Linked DNA regions of Homo sapiens. The protein of the gene in region 1 interacts with the protein of each later gene in a pairwise test. Each region holds a gene or a part of one and is shown in the gene's direction. Other genes may lie near its edges.

Region 1 (7,025 bases):
TTGAGACTCTGTCTCAAAAAAAAAAAAAAAAAAAGAAGCCTCCTTGTGAGCAGCAGGTCCTACGGTGGCCACTGCTTCCTTGGTGATGCTCTCTGGGTTACGGCCTCCACAGCCAGCCCAAAAGTGGCTTCTGCAAGTCGTGATGAGAGTGTCTGTTGATGTGCTGGGCCCTGCTGGACACTGCGCTAAGCACTTCCTGTGCTGCACGGAATCCTCACACCTTGCCAGGACGGGTCCTTCTTTTTTATTGAGGTAAAATTTACAGGCCGGGCACGGTGGCTCACGCCTGTAATCGCAGCACTTTGGAAGTCCGAGGTGGGGGGATCACGAGGTCAGGAGTTCGAGACCAGCCTGGCCAACATGATGAAACCCCATCTCTACTAAAAATAGAAAAGAAATTAGCCAGGCGTGGTGGTGCGTGCCTGTAGTCCCAGCTACTGGGGAGGCTGAGGCAGGAGAATCACTTGAACCTGGGAGGCAGAGGTTTCAGCGAGCCGAGATCGCGCCACTGCACACCAGCCCAGGTGACAGTGAGTCTTTGTCTCAAAAAAAAAAAAAAATTTTACGATAAAATGCATCAATCTTAAGGGTTGAGAATGACAAGTTTAGGTGACTGTACACAGCTGACCATCACCCGTCACACAGAACATCCCGTCACACGGAACATCTCACCTGTCACACAGAACATCCCTTCACCCCTCACACGGAACATCCTGTCACCTGCTGACACGGAACATCCGATCACCCGTCACACGGAACATCCCATCACACAGAACATCCCATCACTTGTCACATCTCACCCATGACACGGAACATCCCGTCAGCCATCACATCTCACCCGTCACACAGAACATCCCTTCACCCATCACACGGAACATCCCATCACCCATCACATCTCACCCGTCACATGGAACATCCCTTCACCCATCACATGGAACATCCCGTCATCTGCTCACATGGAACATCCCATCACCCATCACACGGAACATCCCATCACCCATCACACAGAACATCTCACCCATCACACGGAACATCCCGTCACCCGCTGACACGGAACATCTCACCCGTCACACGGAACATCCCACACCCATCACACGGAACATCTCACCCATCACACGGAACATCCCGTCACCTGCTGACACGGAACATCTCACCCATCACACGGAACATCCCGTCACCCGCTGACACAGAACATCTCACCCGTCACATGGAACATCCCGTCACCCGTCACACGGAACATCCCATCACACGGAACATCTCACCCATCACACGGAACATCCTGTCACCCGCTGACACGGAACATCTCACCCGTCACACGGAACATCCCATCACCTGCAGACACGGAACATCTCACCCATCACACAGAACATCCCGTCACCCGCTGACACAGAACATCTCACCCGTCACACGGAACATCCCGTCACCCGCTGACACAGAACATCTCACCCGTCACACGGAACATCCCGTCACCCGCTGACACGGAACATCTCCCCCATCACACGGAACATCCCATCACCTGCAGACACAGAACATCTCACCCATCACACGGAACATCCCGTCACCCGCTGACACAGAACATCTCACCCGTCACACGGAACATCCCATCACCCGTCACACGGAACATCCCATCACCCGTCACATGGAACATCCCATCACCCGTCACACGGAACATCCCATCACCCATCACACAGAACATCTCACCCATCACACGGAACATCTCACCCATCACACGGAACATCCCGTCACCCGCTGACACAGAACATCTCACCCGTCACACGGAACATCCCATCACCCGTCACATGGAACATCCCATCACCCATCACACGGAACATCTCACCCATCACACGGAACATCCCGTCACCCGCTGACACGGAACATCTCACCTGTCACACGGAACATCCCATCACCCGTCACATGGAACATCCCATCACCCATCACACGGAACATCTCACCTGTCACACGGAACATCCCGTCACCCGCTGACACAGAACATCTCACCCATCACACGGAACATCCCATCACCCGCTGACACAGAACATCTCACCCGTCACACGGAACATCCCGTCACCTGTAACACGGAACATCCCGTCACCCATCACACGGAACATCCCATCACCCGTCACACGGAACATGCCATCACCCGTCACACGGAACATCCCATCACCCGTCACATGGAACATCTCACCCATCACACGGAACATCCCGTCACCCGCTGACATGGAACATCTCACCCATCACACGGAACATCCCATCACCTGTCACACGGAACATCCCGTCACCCGTCACACGGAACATCCCGTAACCCATCACATGGAACATCCCGTCACCTGTCACACGGAACATCCCATCACCCGTCACATGGAACATCTCACCAATCACACAGAACATCTCACCCATCACATGGAACATCCCGTCACCCGTCACACGGAACATTCCGTCTCCCGCTGACACGGAATATCTGATCACCCATCACATGGAACATCCCATCACCCACTCACACGGAACATCCGATCACCCGTCACACGGAACATCCTGTCACCAGTCACACAGAACATCCCGTCACCCATCACACGGAACATCCCATCACCCGTCACACGGAACATCCCGTCACCCATCACACGGAACATCCCGTCACCCGCAGCTGCCCCTGCCCCTTTGTGGCCAGCTCCCCGCCTGGTTCGTCTCTTCTGGAATTCCACGTCCATGAATCACAGCGCGTGTTCTCCCTGCTGTGGAATTCTTTTACCCAACATAATGTCTGCGTGACTCATCCCCCTGCAGCCTCGGTCGGAGCTGGCGTGCCATCGATCCTGTTGTCCTCCCCATTTTTTAGATAAGGAAACTGAGAGTTAGGGAGGGCACAGATGGAAGAGGATGGCACGGACACAGAAATATGGACATGCTTTTTTTGTTTTTTTGAGTTGGGTTCTCACTCTGCCGCCCAGGCTGGAGTGCAGTGGGACAGTCACAGCTCACTGCAGCCTCAACGGCCTGTGCTCAAGCAATCCTCTCACCTCAGCCTCCTGAGTAGCTGGGACTACAGGTGTACGCCACCAGACCTGGCTACGTTTTGCATTTTTTGAAGAGACAGGGGTCTCACCATGTTGCCCCAACTGGTCTTGAACTCCCGGGCTCACCGATCCACCCACCCTGGGCTCCCAAAATGTTGGGATTATAGGCATGAGCCACTGTGTCTGGCCTGGACACCTTTCTATGTACACACAGGTGCACATGTATGTCATAATCCGTGCAGGACATCCTATGCCTGTTCACATAAGCACACACACAGGGTCCGTGTGGACACCTGCGTGCAGATATGAATGTGTGTGTGAGCACGTGTGCTGTGGATATGTGCAAACTTCCAGCAATGAGGAGGCCCCTCGTGGGTTCCTGCTCTGTGGCCACCCAGCTGACCTGCAGGGCACCACGGTCAAGGGAGAAGCTACTGGCATCCAGTCCCTGTGCTGTGGCTTTGAGCCTGACCTGACCTCTGACCCCTGACTTCTGCCTCAACTGTTTCCTCATGTGATTCAAGTAAACAGTAACTCAGCCCAGAGCCAGGGATCCAGGAAGTGCTTATTAAACGCTGTTGGCACAAATCAGCGATCTCGTATTTCCTGGTAGGGGAATCTGTTGTGTTAGCCTGAGCCCGTTTCTCTCCTAAGGACCTGCTCTCCTGCCAGAAAGGGGAGGCCACTCCTTTCCTGCGCCCTCCCTGGAAGCAAACCAGGCCGGCAGGCGAGTCCCAGGTGTGAGGCAGAGGCCCTGGCTCAGGAGCCCCAGAAGGAAACCTTTGAATCAGGGAATCTTGGGGGGCCTGGCCCGAGGCTCCCCCTCCCAGCACCCAGGACCCCTTTGCACCCCTAAGAGAGCCTTCCCACCCCTTAACCTGACTTGACTTCCCCAGCCCTGACCTGGGATCTGCTTTCTCTTCTGTGTGGAAAGTGCCGCATGCTCAGAAGCTGCTGGCCAGGCCGGCCCTGGTTGGGGGTGGAGGGACTGCCCCTCTCTGCTTTGTATTCAACCTACCTCATTGTGACCTCCCAGCATCCGCCAGGCAGTAGCAGGTGTGAGGGCAGGTGGGAAGCACACACCTGCTACCTGGTGGGCCATTCGATGGTTGCTGAGATCACTTACGTGTGAGGAGATGACGGCCACCCCGCTTGGCCGGGGTCATCACCATCTCCTTTCGGACACGGAGCCTGGGAGGGCCGTGTGCCCCCGTCCTGCTCCTCACTGAGGAGATGACCTGGCTGCAGGGGCCTGGGCCTGTCATCCGCCACCCACCCCAGGTGGGCTCATAGCCGATGGGGCGGAAGTCCAGCAGGGCCTGGTGAGGAGGAGGAGGCCCCGGCTGCATGAGGAGGTCCCCAGGGTCTAAGCCCCAGTCCACTTCGAACAATCAACTCTGCTCCTTGGCACCTTCGAAGAGGAGTGGGCGGTGGGGTCCTGGGCCGGCACCTCGCTCACACCCTTTCTGCCGCCCGTGGCTACGTGGACATGCTGGGCGTGAGGGTCCGGGGCCGTTTGAGCTGCCTCGCCTCTGCTTCTGCGGGTTCTCACCTGGGCCTGGAGAGGGTCAGGGCAGCCCTGCTTACCTGTGGAGGGGCGTCCGCCACACCTGTGCAGGTGCAGGCCAGCTGGGCTGTGAGCTGCTTCCTGGCTTCCACCTGAGCCTGTTTCCTCACCTGGTAAATAGGTATGATGACCTCTGCCTCCCCTGGGCGACTGCTGGCGCCGTGAGGTGGTGGACGTGCAGGGGTGGCCACACGCAGGGATGGCAGGTGCTTGAGAGCAGCCACAAAGGGGGCGCGGGCCCTGGGCAGTGAAGCTCATGGTGGGGGATGGGGAGACAGGACAGGCCTGAGAGTCCGGGTGAGGGCGCGGTGGGGTCTCCAGGGTCAGGAGCCGTCCCCGCCTGCCCCTCCCTGCCTGACGCCTCTGACTTACAGATTGTGGCCCAGAAGAAGGTGACCCGCCCGCTGCTGCTCAAGTTTGGCAGGAACGCTGGCAAGTCCACCATCACGGTGAGACCCGGGCGCACCCCTGCAGCCTGCAGGCCCTGCTGCTGTGGCTCCGAGGGGTGTTGTGGGCGGAAGATGGGCAGCAGCGTGCCGTCCAGGGAGGGTCTGCAGGAGCCGGCAGCTACACAGCCCCGGGGGTACACAGACACCTCCTCTCAGGCCCCGCTGGGTGGGGTCAGCCAGCCTGGGGCCTCTGGTCCCCCACGGTGGGGTCAGGCCCCACCTGGCCAAGCCTGGAGCCCGGGCGTCCCCCTGCCAGGTGATCGCCGAGGACATCTCGGGGAACAACGGCTACGTGGAGCTCTCCTTCCGGGCCAGGAAGCTGGACGACAAGGTGAGTGCAGGTGCCGGGCACGCCTGGCTCAGGCTGAGGTCCGGGAACCGGTTCGAAAACCCGGTCCCTGCCCAGCGCTGACCTCGCGTGGCTATGTCCCGTGTGAGACGTGTGCGGAGTGTGCCTGGGGCTGGGCGTGCTGCCGTCACGGTCGCCATCATCACTGTCACCGCCATTAGCTCTCCCGCCCCTCCTGGCAGCTGGGCTGGGGCTGGGGCAGCTCCCTCCTGTGGGGACCACTCATGACCCTGCTCAGGGATGGGGAAATAGGCCCAGCACCCCCGAGGCCACTGTCGTGACAGGAGGAACTGGAACAGCGCGCGGTTCTGCGGGCTCGTCACGTGGGTGGGCAGAACAGGGTCCAACCCCGCCATGTAGGGCGTCTCCCTGGAGGGGCTGAGTCGCAGGGTGTGTAGGGCAAGTCCGTGGAGGGCTGAGTCGCAGGGTGTGCAGGGTGACTCCATGGAGGGCTGAGTTGCCCGCCGTGGTCAGATCCCTGGGGGCGGGAGGGAGGGACGAGATGCTGTCGGCGGGGACTGGCTGCCTCGTTTTGTGCCTGAGGAATTAGCGGCTGGTGGCATGAAGTGAGCCCTGGGAAACGACAAAGCCAGCTCCCATCCAAAGCCCGATCTCACAGTGCCTGGCCCAGCAGCCCTTGTGCCTCTCCCCAGGACCTCTTCAGCAAGTCCGACCCCTTCCTGGAGCTCTACAGGGTCAACGACGACCAGGGCTTGCAGCTGGTGTACAGGACGGAGGTGAGCGGCCGGGGATGGGAACACAGGGAGGGGAAGGGGCTGTCCCCAGCCCTCACGCATCTCTGGCCACATGGGAGGAGCTCCCAGCCTCCAACAGGGAGCTGTGGGCGCAGGGCTTTGGTGGCTGTGGCTATGGCCAGAATCCAACAGGGAGCCGCAGGCGCAGGGCCCTGGGGGCCGTGGCTGTGGCCAGAATCCAGCAGGCTTGTGTAGTCGTGGCTGTGATTATTTTTAGACCTACCTTCCACTTCCTGCAGGTGAAATGGGATTTCAGCGACGGCAGGGAGAGAGTGCTTTCTTTTGAGAGAAATTAACTTGAGTGAAAATGAATCTATTTAAGGAAGAGAGCAGCGCAGGTGGCTCAGAGGTGGCAGAAGTTACGAAGGTGGAGGCACAGGGCTCGGAAATGTGTCTCCCGGGTCCTCACATGGCTTCGTGCAGGGAGTGGGTGCCAGCCCCAGCTCAGGGCCCCGGCGCTGTCTGGGGTGATGCAGGGGCAGGGCCAGCTGTGCCCGCCTCACAGCTGCTCTTCCACCCAGGTCTCTATCCCCCCCAAGGATCCCAGGGCCCTGGGCCTCCCCTGAGCCAGCCCCTCCCGGCCCACAGGTGGTGAAGAACAACCTGAACCCGGTGTGGGAGGCCTTCAAAGTCTCTCTGAGTTCCCTCTGCAGCTGCGAGGAGACAAGGCCTCTAAAGGTGGGGGACGGGATGGACCAAGGGGGCAGTGAGGGGGTGGCCTGGATGTGGGCTGCGATGGAGACACCTGGGCTCGGGTGGGAGGGTCCTGGGGCCCCCAGACAGCAGTGCTGAGGAGGACTGGGCTCCCCAGTGCCTGGTCTGGGATTACGACTCTCGAGGAAAGCACGACTTCATCGGAGAATTCTCTACCACCTTCGAGGAGATGCAGAAGGC
Region 2 (7,050 bases), on another chromosome or scaffold:
GGGAGGAGCTCCTCATTAAAGGGAACAATGTTACAATTCAGCATTTAATAGCAGGAATGTGAATAATAACGCGCCATATTTCAGCCCACTGTCTGCAAAGAAAAGAGAGCAGTTTACAAACAACTCAAGCAGCCGAAAGTTACATTTAATAAACCTCCGAGGTTTTTGTAAGTGGAAAAGCAATTAGGGCTCTGGGCATACTACCCAATTCTTCCCACAACACCCGGTATATATTTTTATTCTGTCTGTTTCTGTGTCTACAAAGGATTCACAATGCACGCAGAAATACGATTAGAGAGACAATCAGAATTACAAATACAATCAGCACAAATTCCTCTGGAAGGCACCAGCTGCCCGGGGGCCCCATCCCACCCCACCTCCCGGTCTAGACACACATTTCTAAGTCTTGATCTGGAACTGGACGGCAAAGCAGGAGTAAAGACACTGATTTGATAGTTGCTGTGCTTGTAATTTACATTATCAGTCATCAAGTTTTTTTTGTTTTGTTTTTTGTTTTGTTTTTTTTTTTTTTAATTCTCCCAGCAAGCCGACTTTCCTCGCAGCTACAGAGTTCTCTGGCTCTGTCTGGGCGCGCAGGGCGGCTGGAGTCAGGAGCCGATTCCCTGGCCTGTGAACGCTCTTTGTGCTTCGTTAGAAAAGAGAAGGAGGGAAAAGGAGAAAGAAAAAAATGATTTCCCTGTGCATCGTCCCTTGGCAGGATCTTGTACAAAATTCAATCTCTATTTTTTATGAGAAGTAAACTGTCTAAATAAATTTTATTAGGGGCAACCAATATATTTTCTGGTAGTTCCCTTTGTTCCACTTCTACGTGTGTGTAACAATCTAAAACCTATTTATTGAGGAAAAATCACTGGATCCGTCATAGAAAATCCTTTTACTTTGCTTTGAAGTGATTTCTGAAGACATTCTTGTCATTCCGAAGATTTGGGGGCCATTGCGCTAAAGCTTCGCCTTGTTAGGGACTTCAGTTCCCATGATCATGTGGGAAATGCCTTAAATTATCAACAGCAATGGGCCTGACCGGCACTTTCCCGGCTGCCCCAGGAACGTGGGAAGATGACGGGGAATAAAACTCTGGTAAATACATATCAGGCGCTACCCAGGTGGATTCAGACATTGGCCAAAACGAGCTACCGAGAGGGAACCGGGAGCAGGGGGGAGCTTTTTACATCCAGGCTATTGTCGTTTTTCTCGCTCTGCCTGCTGGCGGCGGGCACCTGGCTCCAACTCCAGCCTGCGCCCTCCCCGCCTCGACGCCCCACACCGCCCCCTTCCCACTCTCAGATTTCCCTTTTTTTTTCTTTCCTTTCTCCCTTCCCCCCCCCGAGATGCTTATGCTCTGAAGTCTTGCAAGAAATGATTTAGTTTGTTTATACTGCTATAAAAATCAAGACCAATAGAAAAGTCATAAAATGAAGCGGGCTATCAATCATGCCGCAACATTGTTATTCAGCGGTTACTAACAGAGATGGATAATCCTTTGATTTCGTCCCATTGTTATTACTCTGATGTGTCTTCACATTAACTATTACACATTCATTTATCGACCTGAAAGATACAACAAAACAGAATATACGAGCGAGTGCGTGTGGGAGATCGCTGCACAGCCGGCGCCGTTCCGGGGGCGACTGTGGGATGGGGACACTAGCGCTTGTGTGCACGCACGTGGAGACGCGCGGCCCCGCGCCCTTATCCTTGTCTCCCCAGGTCGCGGCCCCTTCTCCCTCCCTCCAGACAGCGTGTGGAGCCAGGCTGTGCGGCCTGGCGGACCTGCCTATTTCTGGGAGCAGGGTTCTGGAGCCAGGTCTCCCTGTCTCTTCCTTAGCCACTTTCCCCCCACTTCTGACCCTGCGTTCCGGTGTGGACACCCTGCAAGCCCCACCCAGGTGGGCAGAAACCTCCTGCGAGTCCCTGGACGTGCGCGGGCCGGTGCGTACTCCCGAGTCACCGTCCTGAGCTCACGCCGCCCCTCCCTGGGCTGCTGTCTGGCCTCCTTTTGCTGTGCGCTCCCAGCGCTCTAGCTTCTAGATTTGAGGTTTTGTTTGGGGGCAAAGAAAGCTTTTATTGGGGAGACTTTGTTTGCTTTAGGTCTCGGAATTCTCCTCCCAGGCAAAGCGTTTCTCAGAAGGGCTGCGGCCGCTTGCCAAAAACCCTAGCGGCTCCCAGACACGCCGCGAGCCTGAGTCCACGACCCCGGCGCCCAGTCCCACATAGGCCGCGTTGGTAGCAGCTGCAGCAGCCGCTGAAACCCAGTCCGGCCCGGAGCTTCCCGGGAAGCGGTCTCCGCAGCTCAGAAGAAACTGGTGTGGCCAATACCCTGCATTCACACGTGTGTGCATATGTGTGCGCGCGCACGTGTGTGTGCAGGAGAGGAGGCGAACGGGCTGCAGGAGGGAAGGAGGAAACAAAACTGCCCGAGAGTTCGCTTTGCCGCCTCCTTTGTCTCCTTGCTCGGTCCCTGTCACACATACAGCTGAGGACACACACACACACACACACACACACACACACACACACAATTCCTCTCGCATCTGCTCTCAGCCAGCATTTTCAATGTTTTGTCTAAGTCAATTGGACGGCGAACAAAAAAAGCCATTTGCTCAGTATTATTTAAAACAGACTTCATTGGGCCACCCTTTTGTGGAAGGTTTATTTGCACTAAATGAATAATCTTAATTGCATCACTCTCGAATTAAAAATCAATGTTAATCAAGTTGGGAGTAGTAAATATCAGTTTTCATTGTGACTGGGTAGAGGGCATTTTTCTTGTGTTGCAAATAAAAATACAAGTCAAATAACTTTAAAAGGGCATTATGTTCTGCTACAAATACAATTGAAACGGATTGTTTAGGAGCAGATCAGAAATGGTACAGAATTTTGCACTTAATTTCCTCAGTTATCATTTACAATAAGAACCTCTAGGCTTGACAGCCAAGTCTAAACAGTAGTAAATTAGTACAAATTTATACTGATTTTACTCTAATAATCGTAATAAAAGCTTATAGATTTGGCACTAATTACATAAATGCCTAATGATCTTGAAAATTACTCTGGTTAGAAATATATTACTAATCTAAACTTTGTTGTTGGCTGGCTCTGAAAAATCAGAACATTAGAAATGGTTCGCTTCACTTGTGCAAAGCACTTTAAATTGTTCAAGTAGTTTAACATATTCAAGAGGAAAATAAAGAGCATTTAACTTTATTTACAGCCTTAAGTGGAGTTGGGAGCCGAGCTGAACTTAGAAACTTTGACCAAAAGAGCGAGTTAGGGGCGAGGATGCGGGCGTGGGCCAAGCGGAAGAGCAGGAGCCGGGAAGAAGCCCGGTGAGAAGAGTGCAGAGCGCTCGAACCCACACTCCGCGAGGGTCCCCAAAGCAGACAGCGGGCGCTGGCGGTGCCAGGGAAGCCGACTCCTCTTTGCGCTCTAGGCCCACTGTGGGGTTGGGGCTCGTATAGACCCCAGGGCACAGCCAGGGCGCCTGGACCCTAGGCGCAGGCCTACTGAGCCGCGGCGAAGTCCAGGCGTTGTCTGAAGGCCGCGGTGTGCCCTCGTCGCGCCCTGGGCTGGCGGGCCAATATGAGCGGCAGGCCCAGAGAGCGCAGGTGGGGGCGACCCTCAGGTCACGCCAGGGTCATGGCCCGCTCTGACCCCTGCTCTGCCCCTGCCCTAGGAAGATGTTAGCTCAGAGGCACAGAGCTACGCCTTCGAAGCGCGCAGCGCCGGCCAAGGGGAAGGAAAGGGGAGCCTGGAGAAAATCGCAGGGAAGAACTAGAGGGAGCCGGGCCCAGAAGCTCAGGGCGAGGCCGAGGCGGCTGAGGCTGCTTTAGCTCCTGCTCCGGGCTGGAGCTGCCAGGGCTGCCGCCGCCGCCTCCTTCAGGCGGGCGCAGGCGAGCGGGCGGGCGGAGTGGGGGACTCTCCGGGCGCTGACATTTGCAGGCTGCCCTCCTGATTGGTCCCCTCGCCGAGCTGCTCACGGGTTCATTCAACTGTTAAGCACCTCCCCGTCTCTCTAAAGGACATTATAATGCAAGAAGCCCCCTTTTTAACCACAAACCGAATTTTCTTTCATTTAGGTGATCTATATATATCTATATCGTATAGCTTATAGCTTATATCTATTTTAAATAACTTAAAGCCGCTAAAATTTGGGGGGGAACAGCTTTCGCCCTGGAGCGGTGCGCGATGCTGTCTCATGCCGACCTCCTGGACGCCAGGCTAGGTGAGTGCGCGCCTCTCGCCCGGGCAGCCAGGAGAAGCCGGGGCAGGAAATTGTCAATTTGTTCCTTATTTTACCTTAATGCGACCTAAATGGACTAATTTCTTTAAAAGTAATTGTGCTGCATTAAAGTTTAATTTGATTTAACATCGCCTTTAAAAAAAAATCTATGGAATATGTAGATCCAAGAAAGGAGTTGGGGAATGTTGTTACTTTTTGTTTTTCTTATTTTTCTCTTCCCCCCTCCCCCGCCTTTTTTTTTTTTTCGAAAGGCGATATACCCCGTGATAATTTGTTAGGAGGTGTTTCTCTCTCTTTTTTCCCTCTCCTGTTTGTTTTGATTTGGGATTTCTTTCTCCTTCCCTCCCCCCGTTTCTCTCTCCCCACCATCTTCTTCTCTCCTCCTTTTCTAAGTGTGGTGTAATTTGTAAAAAATCTGGCATAAAGGAGAAGCTGCTGCCATCAAGGCGGATTTGCTAAGTGTGCTGGTTGAGAAGGAGAGAAGCCAAATTCAACCTCACAGTCATCCCCCCCTCTTCTGCAAGGGACTCAGCGTTGCCAATGGCTGTGAGGAATGCGCCTTTTATTTCTCTGGAAAGAAAAGTTGAAATCTCTAAAGTTTGATTCACGGTTGTCCATAGAGTTCACTCGAGTTTCCTTAATGCTATCTGGGTTGCTGAGCTCTGGGTTTCCGGATTGGGAATCTTCGGTGATGGATGTGACTCCATTTTCCAAACACTTTCTCTGATTTGAGGGGGAGGCGGAGCTGATTTGGGTTGATTTCGGGGGGTGAAAGCTTGGAGGCTTATTCATCTTCCGAAAGTAAGAGGGAATCGGCTGAGGGCCGGAGGTACAGTTCGTCAGGCTGCCGAAGCGCAGGTGCCGCAGCAACCGAGGAATTGTTTAATTTTCTTTCTGCCCCCCGCACCCCTGTGTCCAAAGATTTGCTCTCGATTTCCTGGGGCGCCTGGGGTACGGTTTATGGAAGGGATTCAGAGGCATGTTTTATTGCCGGGACTGGGAGTGTTTTATTGTGGGAGAGACGAAAGCTTGTGCTGTTTACTACGGGAGCCGGCTGCGGCGAGGGCAAGGGGCCGGGAGATATTATTCCAACCCGGCTGTCCAAATTCTGGGGAACCCAGCTGAATACCCTGGGAGTTTCTTCCTTAGGACAAGCGCGGGTGCGGAGGGGGCCGAGGACGGGTTGAAGGAAGGCTGCGCGGGGAAGACAGCCCCTCCTGGCATCGCCAAGAAAGTAGTGACCGCGATCCCCTTGCCTCCTCAGGTATGAAAGATGCCGCCGAGCTTCTGGGCCACCGGGAGGCGGTGAAGTGTAGGCTGGGCGTGGGGGGCTCCGACCCCGGGGGCCATCCGGGGGACCTGGCGCCCAACTCTGACCCAGTGGAGGGAGCCACTCTGCTGCCCGGGGAGGACATCACCACAGTGGGCTCTACTCCGGCCTCGCTGGCGGTGAGCGCCAAAGACCCGGACAAGCAGCCCGGGCCCCAGGGCGGCCCGAACCCCAGCCAAGCCGGCCAGCAGCAGGGCCAACAGAAGCAGAAGCGCCACCGGACGCGCTTCACCCCCGCACAGCTCAACGAGTTGGAGAGGAGCTTCGCCAAGACTCACTACCCCGACATCTTTATGCGTGAGGAGCTGGCACTGCGTATCGGGCTGACCGAGTCCCGAGTGCAGGTACGAGGGGCTTGGGATCTGGGACAGAAGGCAAGGACAGGGCGGGAGGATTTGGGCAAAGGGAGCAGGGTCTTCCCTTCCCCTGTCGAGATCCTGGGCTGCTTTCAGGCTGCCTGTGCGTTCCTGTATCGAGTTATCTCCTTCTCTACCCGGAAACTGGTCCCCATCGCCATCCCCCAATGGACACGCAAGGCCCGTCTCCGGCCAGTATAGCGACATCCCGGAAGAAGCTCCTCAAAATCGAAGCCCGGCGTTGTCGGGCTACAGGGTTCGCCTCCTCCGCCTGAGAAGGCAACCTCAGCGCCCCCCCGGGCGGCCCAGCCGAGCGCACACCTCAACTCCTGCTCGCATTATTGACAAATATTACCCCCTAATGAGTTTGTGTTAAGCGTTTGGATAAAAGGAGGAATGCAACAATTATACAGAAAACAAGAGAAAAGAGCAAATAAGGCGAATGAGCGCCTTTTAAAAAAGTGCTACACCCAGGTTTCACGGCGTGGCTTTATTACCTTAAGTATCACCCTCCCTCTGCACTCAGGCGAAATATTCCTAGCTTTGATGTTTGCAAGGGGTTTGAACTTTCGTAGTCTACCAGTGCGCTGGGGGCAGCTGACGAGATTCCCAAAGCCGGTGAGCCCCGTTTTGTTTTGGAGTCCTCTAAGGAAGCTACGGTGGGGGAGGGGAAATGAAGGCTTTCTGTTGTGGATATCATGTCTGAAGAAGGGGCATTCAGAACGGGAAAGGTTGACAGGCAGTAGAGGAAATCATTGCTGACCCCTTATTCTCCTCCAACCACTCTCCAAGCTGTAAATTATATATAACCTAGAAAATCACACCTATAATTATTCTGAAAATTGGTGAATAAAAGTATAAGCCTAGTGAATCCCAGATTTTTGTTTGTTTTTTTTTTTTGTTTTTTAAAAGAAAGAATGAAGACATATCAAATATTTTATGGACAGGTGCCTGGAGGTGAAATTCCAAGCGCCGGTACTCACTCTTGAGCTATCCAGGGTGCTGAAAAATCTTCCTTTGCCGTCTTGGACGGTGGTATTTTCTGTACGATATCCTGGGTGTCATCAACCTGGTCAATTTGTTAAACCAGTGCTACCTACTTT
Region 3 (7,520 bases), on another chromosome or scaffold:
GTTGTGTATGTTCTGCAAAGGCAAGGCCAGTCCTTTTTATCATTTCCCCAGCTTGCCTGTCAGTTGCCTGGATTGAAGCAAGCAATCAATAAATGTCTGAAGATAATTAAATGTTTTAAACAGCTATTTCCAATGACTTAACTATGGCCTTCTTTAACACTAGAAATTTAAATTGAATTTATCTGTCAGAATCCAAACATAAAAAACTAACTTTGACTAAGGTAAAACAGAAAAGAAAGTTTTGGAAGGATACTAGGTCTCTCAGGAAGTCGGCAGAAAGCCTCGAGATCAAGATTGGAGGACAGGGCTGCTGAAATCACAGAGTGCCATTATCCATTTGATTAATTCATCCTCAGGGCTCCCCTGGCACTGTGGCCACACTCAACACTACACTGTGAGTGTCTACTGCCATTAATAAACTTCCCCGCACATCCCTTGATTCAGGTTTAAACACACAAGTGAAGTGTCCTATCAGCTGAGCCTAGCTCTCAGCCTGTGCTCCAGCTACCAGAGAAGAGGGAGAGGATCTCCTTTCTTTCCTTCAGAAGGGGCGAGTTCTGCCCCCAGTCAGGAAACACACCATGGGGATAGGCACTTAAAGCGGAAGGGGATTTGGATCCTAAGCTGCCAAGGCAACAAAAATGTCCACTAACCTGACTGAAAGGATTCTGAGTCATCACTCAAAAGGGAAGGATAACCTTCCCTAGAATTTAAGATATAAATAAGATAGATTCCCAGCTGTCTGAAATGGTTTAGATAATAGTTCTTCTACAAGGCAGAGATGGATTGAAATACAATATATTCCCACACAGCTATCATCTCCTGAAATGCTAGAAATATCTTCACGTCAAAGTCTTATCATAGGAAGCCTGAGAGCTGGAATCTGGAATTACATTTCTATTTTTTTTAGGCCCTTGCTACAAAGAAGTTGCATTTCCTCCCTCAAGTCGGTTGTCTGCTGTTTGTGACTGATACTATGCACAGCAGTGAGGCATGTGTGTTTCACGAAAATGTGTGAAAACTGCTTTCAAAAATGCATGCCATCTAGATAAAAAGAAAACTATAAAAATATGTTTGGTTGCCACTTCGTAGAGCCTATTGAATTTGTCTGTGAATGTGAATCTAATTGCCATTTTTTCTACTACAGCCTCTGTGAACATTACATTTCCATTAAAAAGAGAAGTCAGTTACAGCAGAATGTATTCCTGTGTTCACATAGGAATCATAAAAATAAATAATGATCGGTTGATTGCTTAATAATTTATGTTTCTCCTTGATAGACCATTAGAGGAAATAAGCAAATCCACAGGTACAGAAAATGTCATTCATTGTCAGTAAAGTGTTACAAACAGCTTCCTGTAACTGAAGTGTTTGTAACTAAAGTGTTACAAACAGCTTCCTGGTTTTGAATGATGACTGCTGATTATTCTCCTGTTCTTCATTTATAATCAGAGAAAGTCTCCTTTATTAACTATTCTTGTTACCATGGGATTGGCATAAAAATATTATCACTTGTGTGGTTGAATTTGAGGGCTGAGGGACCCGCACAACTTGGGTTAGAGGGGTCAGACTTAAACTGCACTTGTTGCAGAAAAATCTATTCCATTCTTCATCCAATGGCAGGAATAAACAACATGTTATTTTGATAAATTCAGTAACTTGATGTTAATGGTTGACAGCCCCCCTCCTTCTCGTGGTTTTTCTCCTTCAGTGATTTGAATGACCTGTGTCTATCTGATGGGTTGACCAGTATGTTTTTTTTTTAAATGATTTTGTATCTATTTTGATGAACAGTTGTCAAAGAGAAGGGTCTATTCTCACTGTTCAGGTAAGGAAATTTGCAGTTAATTAGGAAAATGCACATAAAGATGTCAGATGAATATTCCTAAAGCACAGCTCCAATCAATATCTCACCCCTGATTAAGTTTAATGTCTCTAACTCTCTACCTAATTAAGTCCAGAGTTCTATCCCCGGGCTTCACAGATTTTCATCCTATAGCCTCTGCCTATTTTCTGAGATTTTATTCTACTTTTTTCCTGTACTGTATGTACAGCACAGTTAAGTTTGGTGATTCTTAATCCTTGCTGCACATCAGAATCACATGGAAATCTTCAAACAAACAAACATTAATCCACTGGGCCCACCGCATACTAATTGAAAGTGAATTTGAGGATGAAGCACAGGCATCAGTTTGGTTTGTGTGTGTGTGTGTTTGTGCAGGGAGGGTTAGCTCCTTATTTTGGTTATCTATTGTTACAAATCCAACCACCTCAACACTTATTTGTATGAAACGGTATACATTTTATTATGTTCCCAATTCTGTGGTCCAACTGTTCTGACACAGCACAGCACTGGTAGTGTGCCTTTACTCCATGATGCCTGGGGTTTTGGCTGGGACAACTCACATGGCTAGGGATGTCTGCAAGAGCTGGGAGCTGGAGTCATTTGCAGGCTTCCTCATTGACATTTCTGCTGCTGAGGCTGGGATAATGCAAAGGCTCTGCTTAGCTATACCTGTAAGCCAGGTGTCTACACTTGCCTTTCCATATACCTTGGGCTTCCTCAAAGCATGGTGGCTTAAGGTAGAAAAACTTCCTATACGGAAGTTCAAGAATCCAGGAGCAAATCCACTGTAAAAAGTGGAATTGCAAAGGCTTTTATGCCCCTACCCTCGGAAAGCACATAGCAACACTTCTGTTCCATTTCATTCATTGTAGCAGTCACAATCTTTCAGATTTAAGGGGAGGGGACCCACTTCTCTATAGGAAGAATGTCAATGAATTTGTGGGCACATTTTAAAGTTACCACACACCCCAGGTGATTCCAATGTACAGGCAGCGTTGAGAACAACTGGATTCATTTTTTTTTTTTGTAAGCACCCATCTACAAAGGAGCAGTGGGACTTGGGTGAAGTGAACAAGACACCTAGGGTGCAAAATTTAAGAAAATCATTCTCAGGATCATGCAAGCACAGGATAGAGATTGAGAGCAAGTGCCTCCTTACATTCTGTGCTCAAGTGGCCCCACTTGCCACACCCTAGTCCTGAGCCTACTACATAGCAACTGTGTATGAATCATTAGGGTGAGGGGGACTTGGATTTCTGGACTAGACAGTACTTTAGTATTGGGATTTGGAAAGCCCAGGTAGGATCTGGGATTCTGTATGTTTATAGGAATCCCCAGTGGACTACTTCCAGCTTCCACGTGCTTTCCTGGTGCCATGCTTTGCTTACGCTGTTCCTTCTGCCTGGAAGTGTTTTCCTTCTATTTCTATCAAGCATGGAGTATCCACTGATTTTTAAGGTCCATTTCATATACCGCTTCTTTCATCAAGCTTTTATTGGTCCCCCCAGCCAGAGTGTAACCTGTCTCTCCTGAGAAACCCCTAGCATGTTTTACATGCCTTTAAGACACTCACATGTTGATCAGCATTTTGGTTGTGTGTGGGCCTGTCTTATAGGAAGAATATGTTTACTTTTCTCCAAAGGCCACAAAATGGAGATCTGGATCCTCCTCACCCGTTCTCACTGGTAGAGGCAGAGTCTTGTTTAGACAAGGTTCCCTCTTTTTTGCCTTATCTCGCTCCCAGATAGCTCAAGTTTGTAACCAACACATACACATTTTAGATGCCCAATAAACTGGATCTCTCTCCTGATGAAAGGTGTGGTCAGTTTCCTATTTTTACAGCCTTCGCAGAAGCCGTCAAATATTGAATAATTACCCTGGTTTAAATGCTTAAACACAGATAAGGACTTCGTCTTGTGACTTTGGGAAACTTCATATTTGAACATTACCTAACAATCCTTGCCCCATAGCAAACGTTTCGAAGCCTACTCTAGGCAGAGTTCATAGCACCGCCTTTGTCAGCAGCACTGCCATAGGTAAGCCTCAGAACCCTCTGGGGTGAGACCGGTGTAACCATTTTACTGATGAGGAAAAGTGAGGCTTACAGGTTAAGTCCTTCGAGCGCAAGATAACACCGAATGGCTTAATCCCTACACCAAACCAGCTGCTCCTCGATTGCTGGTATTCGTGAACCCTGCCCCCGCCTTTGGGGAAGGTCGGGCAGACAGGCCACTGGGACCAAAAGCAGAGTAGGTAGAACCTCTCTGAGTTCCTCCCTATTTATGGCATCCACTCAGGTGAGGCTGGGGGCGTCCTTACCTTGCGCTTTGGCTGCTCAGGACAAACGCCCTGCCATTCGTCCCTTCTCTCTGTCCGGACGCCCTCCTCCATCCCTGCACTTGGGGCCGTCGTGGGGCTGGTAGGGGTCCCCAGGCTATCTCCAGCCGTGGCCGATGGCCGTGCCGGGGGCAGAGCCCGCTCCCCTCCGCGCGTTGCTACGTGCGGGGATGACATGGATCCAGACGCCGTCAACTACGGGAAGGAGGAGGCGAGAGTTGGAGCGCGTGGGAGCGCAGAGGCCGGAGGAGGGAGGGGGGGACACCGAGCGCGGAGAGCGCGGAGAGCGCGGAGGGAGGCGCGCGCGGGAGCGAACACCCTCCCGGATCCAGAGCCCGGCGGCGGCGAAGCAGCAGCTGCGGCCGCGCCCTTGCCAGAGCCGGTGCGTCCGCCTAGCCCCGCTCCGCCTGAGGCCGTCAGGGCTCCCGAGGATGGAAGATTCCCAGGAGACATCGCCGTCCTCCAACAACTCCTCGGAGGAGCTCAGCTCTGCTCTGCACCTGTCCAAGGGCATGTCGATCTTCCTCGACGTAAGTACAGATGGTGGGAGCTGGGCGGTTGCTTCCCAGCACCTTTCTTTTCCCCGAAAGGAAGGGGTTCGGCTCAGGTGCTGACCAGCCAATGCTTTGTCCCCAGAACACAGGCGAGAACTACCGATGCAAATGCAGGAGGAACGACTGTCCCTTAACTTGCAGCTAGGGCTGTCCCAGACCTGCAGCTTGTGGCTTAACACCCTTAAGAAAACTGCAAAAGTTAGATTTTCCAACAGGCTGGGTTTCGTAGAGACACTATTGCAAATACAACAGACAACATTTGAGTGCATAGGACATTTTAAAGAGGCACAAGGTGTGGGGGGTGAGGTGGGGACAGTGTCCCAACTCATCTCTCTAACGCGCCCTATTCGCAGCCTTCACACTCGTGGATGCTCTCAAGCAACCCAGCCAGGGAAGCAGCAGCGATTGAGATGCCCTCGTTATCCTCCCCCAGACCCCCTCGGAAAACAATTACTTTGAGCATATTTGTTTTTCTTTTTACAGCGGTGGGAAATATCATTTTCATAATGATTCTTTTTGTCACTGCCACCTCTTCTATTTTCCCTTTTTCTTCCCTGATATTCTCCTTCTCTCCAAGTTCTAATTACTACTGTCACCTCCATGAATTCTAGCTTTTGACTATTTTCCCTTTGGTCCAATTTCTCACTTCGGTATCGACTGCCTGCCTTCATTACTCTGATCTGATTACATCCTTTCTTTTCCTTCTGTGCTGTTTCTTTTTCCCGTATGGTGTGGTTTCTATCTTTACAGCACTTTTATTTCTTATTTATTTCTCAATTTTGTTTTCCTCTCCTGCCTGCTGTTTCTGTTTTCTCTATTTTTCCGTCTGTTGCCTATCTCTTCTCTCTGCTTTGGGGTTTCTCTCAGCTGCTTGCCGGGCTCCAGGCTCTCCCAGCCCCTCAGTTGTCACATTCATGCTGTTGCCGGAGGTCGTGTCTATCTCAGTGGGGACAATTCTGTCTGCTTCTTGTTTAGGCATGATAGAAAATGTCAAAGGACATGGAGGAGTGCTACGTGCTCTGTCCTTTACCCTTCTCTGAGTTATCTTTTCTTATTAAAGTCAAAATGAGTGGGAGATGGGCCAGAAGCCAGATACATTTGTTTGTGGAGAGATGAAAATATGAGGAAATCAATTAGTATCATAATGGTGAGGCAGAGATAAAGAGGATAGGAGGATGTGAGGCGCTCTCCCAAGTTTATTTTGAATGGATTGGCTAGAATTCTTTTTAATTCTAGGGAAAGAAACTCCTATCAATAATTCAAACTGTTGTAAGGCAAATGATAGAAGTGAGGTTCAACTGTGTGTACTGGCAGCCTTCACCCTTTATCACCTGGTGGCTCCAATTGGTGATCCAGGCATTCTGGGCTGGTCATCTCCTTCCCACCAAATCTCAGGTGTGGTCATTCCTATTCAGCCACCCAATCAGGTGGTTAAGTACCTTATCCTTCATGAGCATTTATCTCTGCCTGGCTTGGGTCAGTCAGATGGTATTATTGGTGCTCATGGCTTAACGGGCTGATCTTATTCAAGTTTTGCTGTTCAGGGCCATAAAGCACTTGAGGAGGTAAGCTGAGAAAAGAGAAGGGCACCACAACATGCCTGAAAAGTCAGGGCCCCTGGAAATCATGTCAGTTATGAGGCTGACAATTAAGGGGCCATGGAGTTGATTCAAAGGGGACAAGTGGGGCCTCCATTCATTCTGACCTGATCTTCACTCTGTCCCCCATTGAGATCAAGTGCTTCCCTGTGCTTTTTAAAAAGCACTTAACAAACCCCGGTGATAGTGTGGAGATGAATGGATTAAAACTACACAAATGGAAAGTCATCCTCCTGACTCATACACCAGCCATTGCTTAAGTGTTCAACTGCAATGTTTTCGAAGAGAAAATTAAAATTTCATTTTTTATTATGTATGCATGATTGTTTCCAAGTCTGTAAACAAATAGCATCAGGTCCCTGTACTAAAGGAACTTGTAGTCTGTGAATAGGGTGGTCTTGCCTTTTATATTTCAGAGATTTAAAAATAAAAATAGGAAACTGATTCCCTATGAGAGGTGTTGACATGCTTGTTTGTCGGTAAAATGCTAGAGTCTACAAAAAAAACCTGCCATTGGATTTTGTGTCAAATGGAAAAGATTTTGTTTACACTTTTCTTTGAGTTATTTTGTGAAAAATCTAACACTGGTGAAATATGTGATATGAAAAATGATTTGTTACTTAGGGATTTGTGAATTATTCATTTCTGGATCATACCACTTTTAGCAAAATAAAATATAAAATATACATGCATCACTTTATTTATTTGATTTAATATATTCTATGGCACTAGCAAGAAAGATTACTTTTAAAATTATCTTCATATTATAATACATAGGTGATAGATATTACCTGTTCCAAACTGGAACAGGTAATTTTCTGTGTGTCTTCTGTATCAAACAGACAATTTCCAAATTTGAGGAAAACTTTGATTTGCAGTGCTTTTTATTGCAATGTCACTGGAATAATCAATCATTTAAGAAATGATGTAAACTGCTACTGAGAACACTATTAATGACATGATACATGACCAGCTGGTTGGAAACTAGAGACAGATTTTAACAAGAAAATCAGAGATAGATTTGCCACAACTGTTGGCTTTTCCTTCAGTATCCTCTCCAAATCAGCAATAGTAATCACTATGATACTTCCTTAGGCTGTTGTGAGTATGAAATAAGGGAAAATGGAAACAAAGCAAAAAGTATTGCATAAATTTGAAGTATTATGGTTATTTCAGTGCTGCACA
Region 4 (6,921 bases), on another chromosome or scaffold:
ATTACAGGTGTAAGCCACCGCGCCCGGCCCGAGGTATGCATTATTATTAACTACGGTTACCACACTGTGCAATAGATTGCTAAAACTTACTCCTCTTGTTTAACTGGAACTTTTTGTACCCTTTGATCAACACCTCTCTATTCCCCGTTTTCTCTGTACGAGGATTTGTTTTTGGTGTGGCTTGTAACTTTTGACTTTAAGCTCCTCTTTAGTGGAGATTGTTTTCTGTGAGTGTTCCATGTGGCCTAGATTATGTGAGTACCCAGAAGCCTTGTTATTCAAAAATCAATCTCTACTCAAGAACATTTTTCAGTAATTGTCACTTTTCTCCCCTTCCATACAAATTTTTCCTCCCTACTGGATCATTCTAATCAGTGTGTAAGCATGCTGTAAGATCTCCTAATTTGTCTCATTTTGCTATTTCTTTTTATAGCAAAACTTCTTGAATGACTTGTCTATATTTGCTGCTCTAATTCTTCTCTTCTCGTTCCTTATTGAACTTATTCCATTCAGGATTTCTCTACTCCCAACCACTCTTATAAGGTCAAGGTCACCAGTGATTTTATACTCCTGTTGCTCAGTCAATTCTTAATCCTCATCTTACATTTGATCATGGCATTTGATTAGTTGATGATTCTTTCTTTCTTCCTTTCTTTCTTTCTGACAGAGTTTCGCTCTTGTTGCCCAGGCTAGAGTGCAATGGTGTGATCTAGGCTCACTGCAACCTCTGCCTCCTGGGCTCAAGCGATTATGGGTTTATACCTTTTCTTAAGGTGCCAGTTTGTATATTACAGGCGTGCACCTCCACGCCCAGCTAATTTTGTATTTTTAGTAGAGACAGGTTTTCTCCATGTTGGTTAGGCTGGTCTCGAAGTGCAGACCTCAGGTGATCTGCCCATGTCGGCCTCCCAAAGTGCTAGGATTACAGGCGTGAACCACCACACCCAGCAATTCCTTCTTTCTTTGAACACTTTATGCAGTTGGCTTCCCGGATACCACTCTCTGTTTTCCTGCTACCTCAGTGGCTCCTCAGTTTCTTTCTCCTTTAATAGATTTTTCTTATTACCCTGACCCTATATGTTGGCGTGGTCCAGGGCTTGGTCTTTATAGTGCTTCTCTTTATTGTCACTCATTGTTTCATGGCCTAAACGTTTATGGGTGGGCCTGGTGGCTCGCACCTGTAATTCCAGCACTTTGGGAGACTGAGGTGGGTGGATCACCTGAGGTCAGGAATTTGAGACCAGCCTGGCCAACATGATGAAACTTCATCTCTGCTAAAAATACAAAAAGTAGCTGGGCACGGTGGCAAGCATGTGTAATCCCAGCTACTCAGGAGGCTGAGGCAGGAGAATCACTTAAACCTGGAGTCGGAGGTTGCAGTGAGCTGAGATTCTGGCACTACATTGGGCAACAGAGCAAGATTCTGTCTCAAACAACAACAACAACAAAAACTTTTGCAATTTCCTCTGCCTGGAGGTTCCCACAGATACACGCAAGGCTTGCGTCTTAATTAACTTCCGGTCTGGATTCAAGCCTGTTTTATCTGTTAGTCCTTCCCTGACCATCCTATATAACTTGCACTCCATCTCTAACAGTACCTCTCCTCCTTACCCCAATGTAATTTTCTTCACAACACCTATAATTACCACTTGTGCACTTATTTATTGTCCAGCTCACCCTACAAAATATAAGTCTTGGGAGGGCTGGGACTTTGTGTGTTTAGTTCATTCTTGCATATATAGCTATTGGAAGAGTGCTGGGCACATCATCTGGTAAATATTTATTGAATGAGTAAGTGAATAATAGAAATAGATGACACCTTTTCATTATTTCCTAAGCTGAGGTAGATATCTCCCTATTTTAAAAAATATTTTGATTGTTCAGCCTGTTTCGAAATAAGTGTTTATGCCTTTTCCTAAGGTGCCAGTTTATAAAGAAATTATTAAACTTCAAAGTGTCATTTTCATATCAGGAACCATCTACCAGGATTAGAGTTCTCAAACTGAGGTTTGTGGGTTCCAAGGATGGGTTTCAAGGCTGTGTTAGCTCCCTGGATTTGAGTGCAAAGTGTTGTATGTAGATGTGTATGTGCATTTTTCTTGGGAAAAATTTTACCTTCCATCAGATTCACAAAGGAGTCAGAACCCAATTAATGGTTTTGAATTACTGTTATCTTCCTTGGGTGTTGATCAGCTAAAAGCGAACACATTGAAGATAAAACTCCTATAATCTTCCCCTCTAAACCACCTTATCTCTTGACTTTCTTAGAAGCAGAGCACATTGATGTTGGAAGCAATACCCAATGAAGGTGTCCCTCTAAATGTGCCTGGTAAATTGTTAGCCATGCTGTCCTCAGGAACTCAAAGCAGCGCCATCAATCACATGAATGTTAGAAACGTCCAGCTAGGTGCCATGGCTCATGCCTGTAATCCCAGCACTTTGGGAGGCCAAGGTGGGTGGATCACTTGAGGTCACGAGTTCGAGACCAGCCTGGCCAACATGGTGAAACCCCGTCTCCACCAAAAATACAAAAAAAAAAAAAAAAAAAAAAAAAGACTAGAAACTTCCACCTATGTCAGGCTGAAACAGTAGTTTCACACATAGGATCTTGTTCAGACCCTGGGACTTAAGAGAACATGTCGAATCCCTTTTCCGCTGGTCACTTTTCAGGTACATGAAGATGTAATCCCATCCCCGCATCAAGCTTTATTTCTCCAGAGGAGGATCTTTAATTCTTGTAAACATGGGACAGGTACAGGACATGTTATGATAATGACAGGTACAGGACATGTTATGATAATGACAGGTACAGGACATGTTATGATAATGACAGGTACAGGACATGTTATGATAATGACAGGTACAGGACATGTTATGATAATGACAGGTACAGGACATGTTATGATAATGACAGCTCTTCTTTAAATTTTTATTTTTTATTTATTTTATTTCCATAGGTTATTGGGGAACATGGCAGCTTTTTTTGAATACCCTCCTCTTTGCCAGTTGCCCAAGGTGGAACACCCAAACTTTGACATGATACTTCCATTAATGCAACTTAGTATCACAAGTTGATGTCGTGGCCCAGCACAGGATGGCCTGGAAACCGGCAACACTGGACGCTGGGGAAAGGGTAAGAAGGTCTTGACCATTACAAATGGTGTGGAACTGAGCCGAGGGAGGGATAGTGAGAAGGGAGAGAGGGTGAGGTGTCTGAGAGACAATGAGGTCAAATCAGAGGATTCAGCCATTGTTGGCGTGTGGGAAAGGGAAGGAGAAGGGAAGAGTCAGGGATGACATTTGTTGAGAGAGAGAGAGAGAAGAGAGAGAGACGCAGGTGGAAAGAGGATGGCACCACATTGGACTAGCCCCAACGGAATGGGGAGAAGTGGGAGAGGACCCAGGGGATGCAGAGCTGATGAGAGTGGGAGAACCAAGACAGAGGAAGAAGGTTGGGGCAAATCAAGTGTCTCAGGGAGGCCCAGTGAGGCAAGAACGGAAAGGAGAAAGGCGGCGGTTAAGAATCAGGGATAATGGCAGAGCGTTGCAGCTCTGCGGGTGGGACTGGGCGGAAGGGTTTGGGAGAGACAAAGAAATGATCTTTGAAGGCCTCGCAGTGCTTGGCCGAGTGCCTGGCACAGAATAGGTGCGCAATAAATGACGGGTGAGAAGTGAAGGAACTCAGGAACAGTGATTAGTGAGTGAGTGACGGAAGGAACGGAGGATGGCGTTGGCTCGGGAACCTCGCTGCCATGTCGGTGGAGGCTCCTGGGCTGCAACGCCAGAGAGAGGCGGGGCGTCCCCGACGGCCAATAGGAGCTTCGGTATCAGCTCCGCCCCCGCCCCCTAGCTCCGCCCGGTGCCGCACGTCGTTCGCCTGCCGCCTGAGGCGCGCGCAGCCACCCAGCTCCCGGAAGTGCGCCCGGAGCCGGCGCCGCGGGCCGAGGTGAGCGCGCTTGCGGGGCGGTCCCGGCCTCCGGCCGCTCGGGGTCAGGCCTTGCGCTATCTGCGTCCGCACCTGACTCAGCTGGGCACCCCGGAGCTACGGAGGGGCCAGCGGGCTCCCTTGCCCATGCGTCTGGGAGCGCGCGGGGGACGTGGCGAGTGCGGGGCCGGGGCAGCCATGGCTGGGAGTGGACCGTGGGTGCGGGGGGATGTGTGAACCCCGTCCCGGCTCTGCATTCCTGCGCCTCTGCGCCCCGCGGGACCGGCCGGGTCTCTGCACTGGGACCGAAAACGGGCTCCTCCCCGCTGTCTTCCCCTAAGGGCTGAAAATGAGTCTCTGGAAGAGGAAACCCGATGGGATGATGCCTGGAGTCTCTCCCTCTCTCATCAGAGTGCAGTCGGCATTTGGGGGGCGCATGGTGGAGAATACATATCCAATGAGCAGCGCTGCCCTGGCCTCGAGCACTAAATGCCAGTTCCCCTAGCTGCTTGTGACAACCAGAAAACGCCCCAACAAATCACCAGACGTTGGCAGTTCTCCCCAAAGCAAAGGCTTTAGAGCTTCCTGGGTTAATCTGGCTGCCACTTGTGAGCCTCGGAGGTTCCTGATCTGTACACCAGGGTAATTGTGGGAATTGGAAATACATGAACCGAGCTTAATAATGAGCCGATACGTAGTAGGTGCTTAACAAATGGTTACTTATATATGTAACCATGTATGTAACCACTTGTGTATATTACACCTAGAATGCACTTTTAAAAATTCATTCTATTTGTTAAAGGTTTAATAACAGGTATAACAGACAACCTTATTTTTTTTTCATAACTAATGGGGGCAGTTCCTCATGAGGTTATCGGAATATAAACTCTATTAAATTTTTAATACTATATAAAGTAATTTAATTTTGAATAATCGAGACATTTTTCTTACACACTACCTGGGAGTATAATATTACTAACAAAAGATTTAAGTATTTTATAAAATCTGTAGTTTTTCCAAAATGTCATTTCTCTTAAATATTATCTAAACTGCTATCTTAATTTAGGAAACAGATAAATTGCAGTAAGTTTACAGGTCGGTATCTTGCTATCTAAAATCTTGCCGCTTGTTATTTGAAACTCTTGAGCCAAATAGGTTGGATTTACAAAGCAAGGTATTTTTAAAAATATATTTATTCGTTTTTTAAGATGTTATTTGAAACTGTAGGTTTACCTCTGAGCTAAAGCTGCTTTTCAGGTGGTTTGATAATGCTGTCATTGTCACTCAGTATGAAAACATATTTTAATTTCCTTTGTGATTTTTTTCTTTGACTATGGGTTAAGAGCATTATTTAGTAATTTCCATAAATTGGGATTTTCTAGTTATTGTTATTGATTTCTACTTTAATTGCACTATGATCAGAGAATATATTTGAACCCAGGAAGCTCTAAAGTTTTCCATTTGACCTTTCTGGTTTTGTTTCTCTTGTGTTCCTTTTCTATCAGATATTGGGTTTTTGAGTGTTTTTTGGTATTGCTTTAATGGCTTTTTAGCAATACCACTTTGCGTAATATTTTTAGAGCTAATTTTAAGATATCAGTCATTTGAAAATTATGCATATGGTCTGTTTTGATGAATACTCTTTGCACTTGTAATGAATGTATACTCTGCAGTTCTTGGGTCTAGTGTTCTGAAAATGTCAATTAGAGCAAGTCGGTTGATAGTGTTCAGATTTTTTGACTTCACTGACTCTTTTTTTTTTTTTTTTTGAGATGGAGTCTCCCTCTGTCGCCCAGGCTGGAGTGCAGTGGTACGATCTTGACTCACTGCAACTTCCGCCTCCCAGGTTCAGGCTGTTCTCCTACCTCAGCCTCCTGAGTTGCTGGGATTACAGGTGCGCACCACCATGCCCAGCTAATTTTTGTATTTTTAGTAGAGATGGGGTTTTACTGCGTTGGCCAGGCTGGTCTCAAACTCTTGACCACAGGTGGTCCTCCCGCCTAGGGCTTCCAAAGTGCTGGGATTGCAGGCGTGACCCACCGCGCCTGGCCTGGGTTTCTTTTTTTTTTTCTTGCAGTGGTGTGATCTCGGCTCACTGCAACCTCTGCCCCCTTGGGTTCAAGCAATTCTCCTGCCTCACTCAGCCTCCCTGGTAGCTGGGATTACAGGCATTCACCACCACGCCCGGTTAATTTTTGTATTTTTAGTAGAGATGGGGTTTTGCCATGTTGGACAGGCTGGTCTTGAACTCCTGACCTCAAATGATCCCCCTGCCTTGGACGCCCAGAATGCTAGGATTACAGGCGTGAGCCACTGCGCTCAGACCTGGGTTTCTTTTTAAGCAAAAAATAAATTTAATGAGGACCACATAAAAAACATTTGGTATTGGATTACGGTTGCAAGGGTCCATTTATACAAGGATTTTCATCTGCCTCTGTGACTCCTGCGACTGCAAGACCAACCCTTCCTTCTCCTTCTCCTGTTCCTTGTCCTCTTCAGGCTACTCAGTGTGAAGATGATGAAGGTGACCACCTTTATGGTGATTCACTTCCACTTAGTGAATAGTAAATGTAGTTTCTCTTCCTTATAATTTTCTTTTTCTTTTTTTTTTGAGACGGAGTCTCGCTCTGTCGCCCAGGTTGGAGTGCAGTGGCACGATCTCAGCTCACTGCAAGCTCTGCCTCCCAGGTTCATGCCATTCTCCTGCCTCAGCCTCCCGAGTAGCTGGGATCACAGGCGCCCGCCACCACGCCTGGCTAATTTTTTGTATTTTTAGTAGAGAAGGGGTTTCACCGTGTTAGCCAGGATGGTCTCGATCTCCTGACCTTGTGATCCAGCCACCTCAGCCTCCCAAAGTGCTGGGATTACAGGCGTGAGCCACCTGGCCTGGCCTCTTCCTTATAATTTTCTTAATAATATTTTGTCTAACTTACTTTATCACAAAAATACAGTAACATGCAAAATGTATGTTAATCAACTATTTAAGGCATCAGTCA

Evidence for each region.
Region 2: the proteins of CPNE7 (region 1) and OTP interact in binary tests that used the Homo sapiens proteins (3 or more experiments, as listed by UniProt).
Region 3: the proteins of CPNE7 (region 1) and NECAB1 interact in binary tests that used the Homo sapiens proteins (3 or more experiments, as listed by UniProt).
Region 4: the proteins of CPNE7 (region 1) and ZNF18 interact in binary tests that used the Homo sapiens proteins (3 or more experiments, as listed by UniProt).

What each region holds. Positions count from the first base shown.
Region 1 is NC_000016.10:89,578,745-89,585,769, forward strand, and holds part of CPNE7 (copine-7), read left to right. Parts: intron 1-112; coding exon of another isoform or gene 113-252; intron 253-4,699; coding exon of another isoform or gene 4,700-4,784; intron 4,785-4,952; coding exon 4,953-5,027; intron 5,028-5,283; coding exon 5,284-5,358; intron 5,359-6,029; coding exon 6,030-6,113; intron 6,114-6,719; coding exon 6,720-6,809; intron 6,810-6,942; coding exon 6,943-7,025. UniProt on the Homo sapiens protein: Calcium-dependent phospholipid-binding protein that may play a role in calcium-mediated intracellular processes.
Region 2 is NC_000005.10:77,635,706-77,642,755, reverse strand, and holds the start of OTP (homeobox protein orthopedia), read left to right. Parts: upstream 1-4,042; 5' UTR 4,043-4,206; coding exon 4,207-4,243; intron 4,244-5,525; coding exon 5,526-5,935; intron 5,936-7,050. UniProt on the Homo sapiens protein: Probably involved in the differentiation of hypothalamic neuroendocrine cells.
Region 3 is NC_000008.11:90,787,273-90,794,792, forward strand, and holds the start of NECAB1 (N-terminal EF-hand calcium-binding protein 1), read left to right. Parts: upstream 1-4,502; 5' UTR 4,503-4,614; coding exon 4,615-4,713; exon of another isoform or gene 4,714-4,896; intron 4,897-7,520.
Region 4 is NC_000017.11:11,994,456-12,001,376, reverse strand, and holds the start of ZNF18 (zinc finger protein 18), read left to right. Parts: upstream 1-3,901; 5' UTR 3,902-3,946; intron 3,947-4,004; exon of another isoform or gene 4,005-4,104; intron 4,105-4,266; exon of another isoform or gene 4,267-4,567; intron 4,568-5,697; exon of another isoform or gene 5,698-5,819; intron 5,820-5,850; exon of another isoform or gene 5,851-6,921. UniProt on the Homo sapiens protein: May be involved in transcriptional regulation.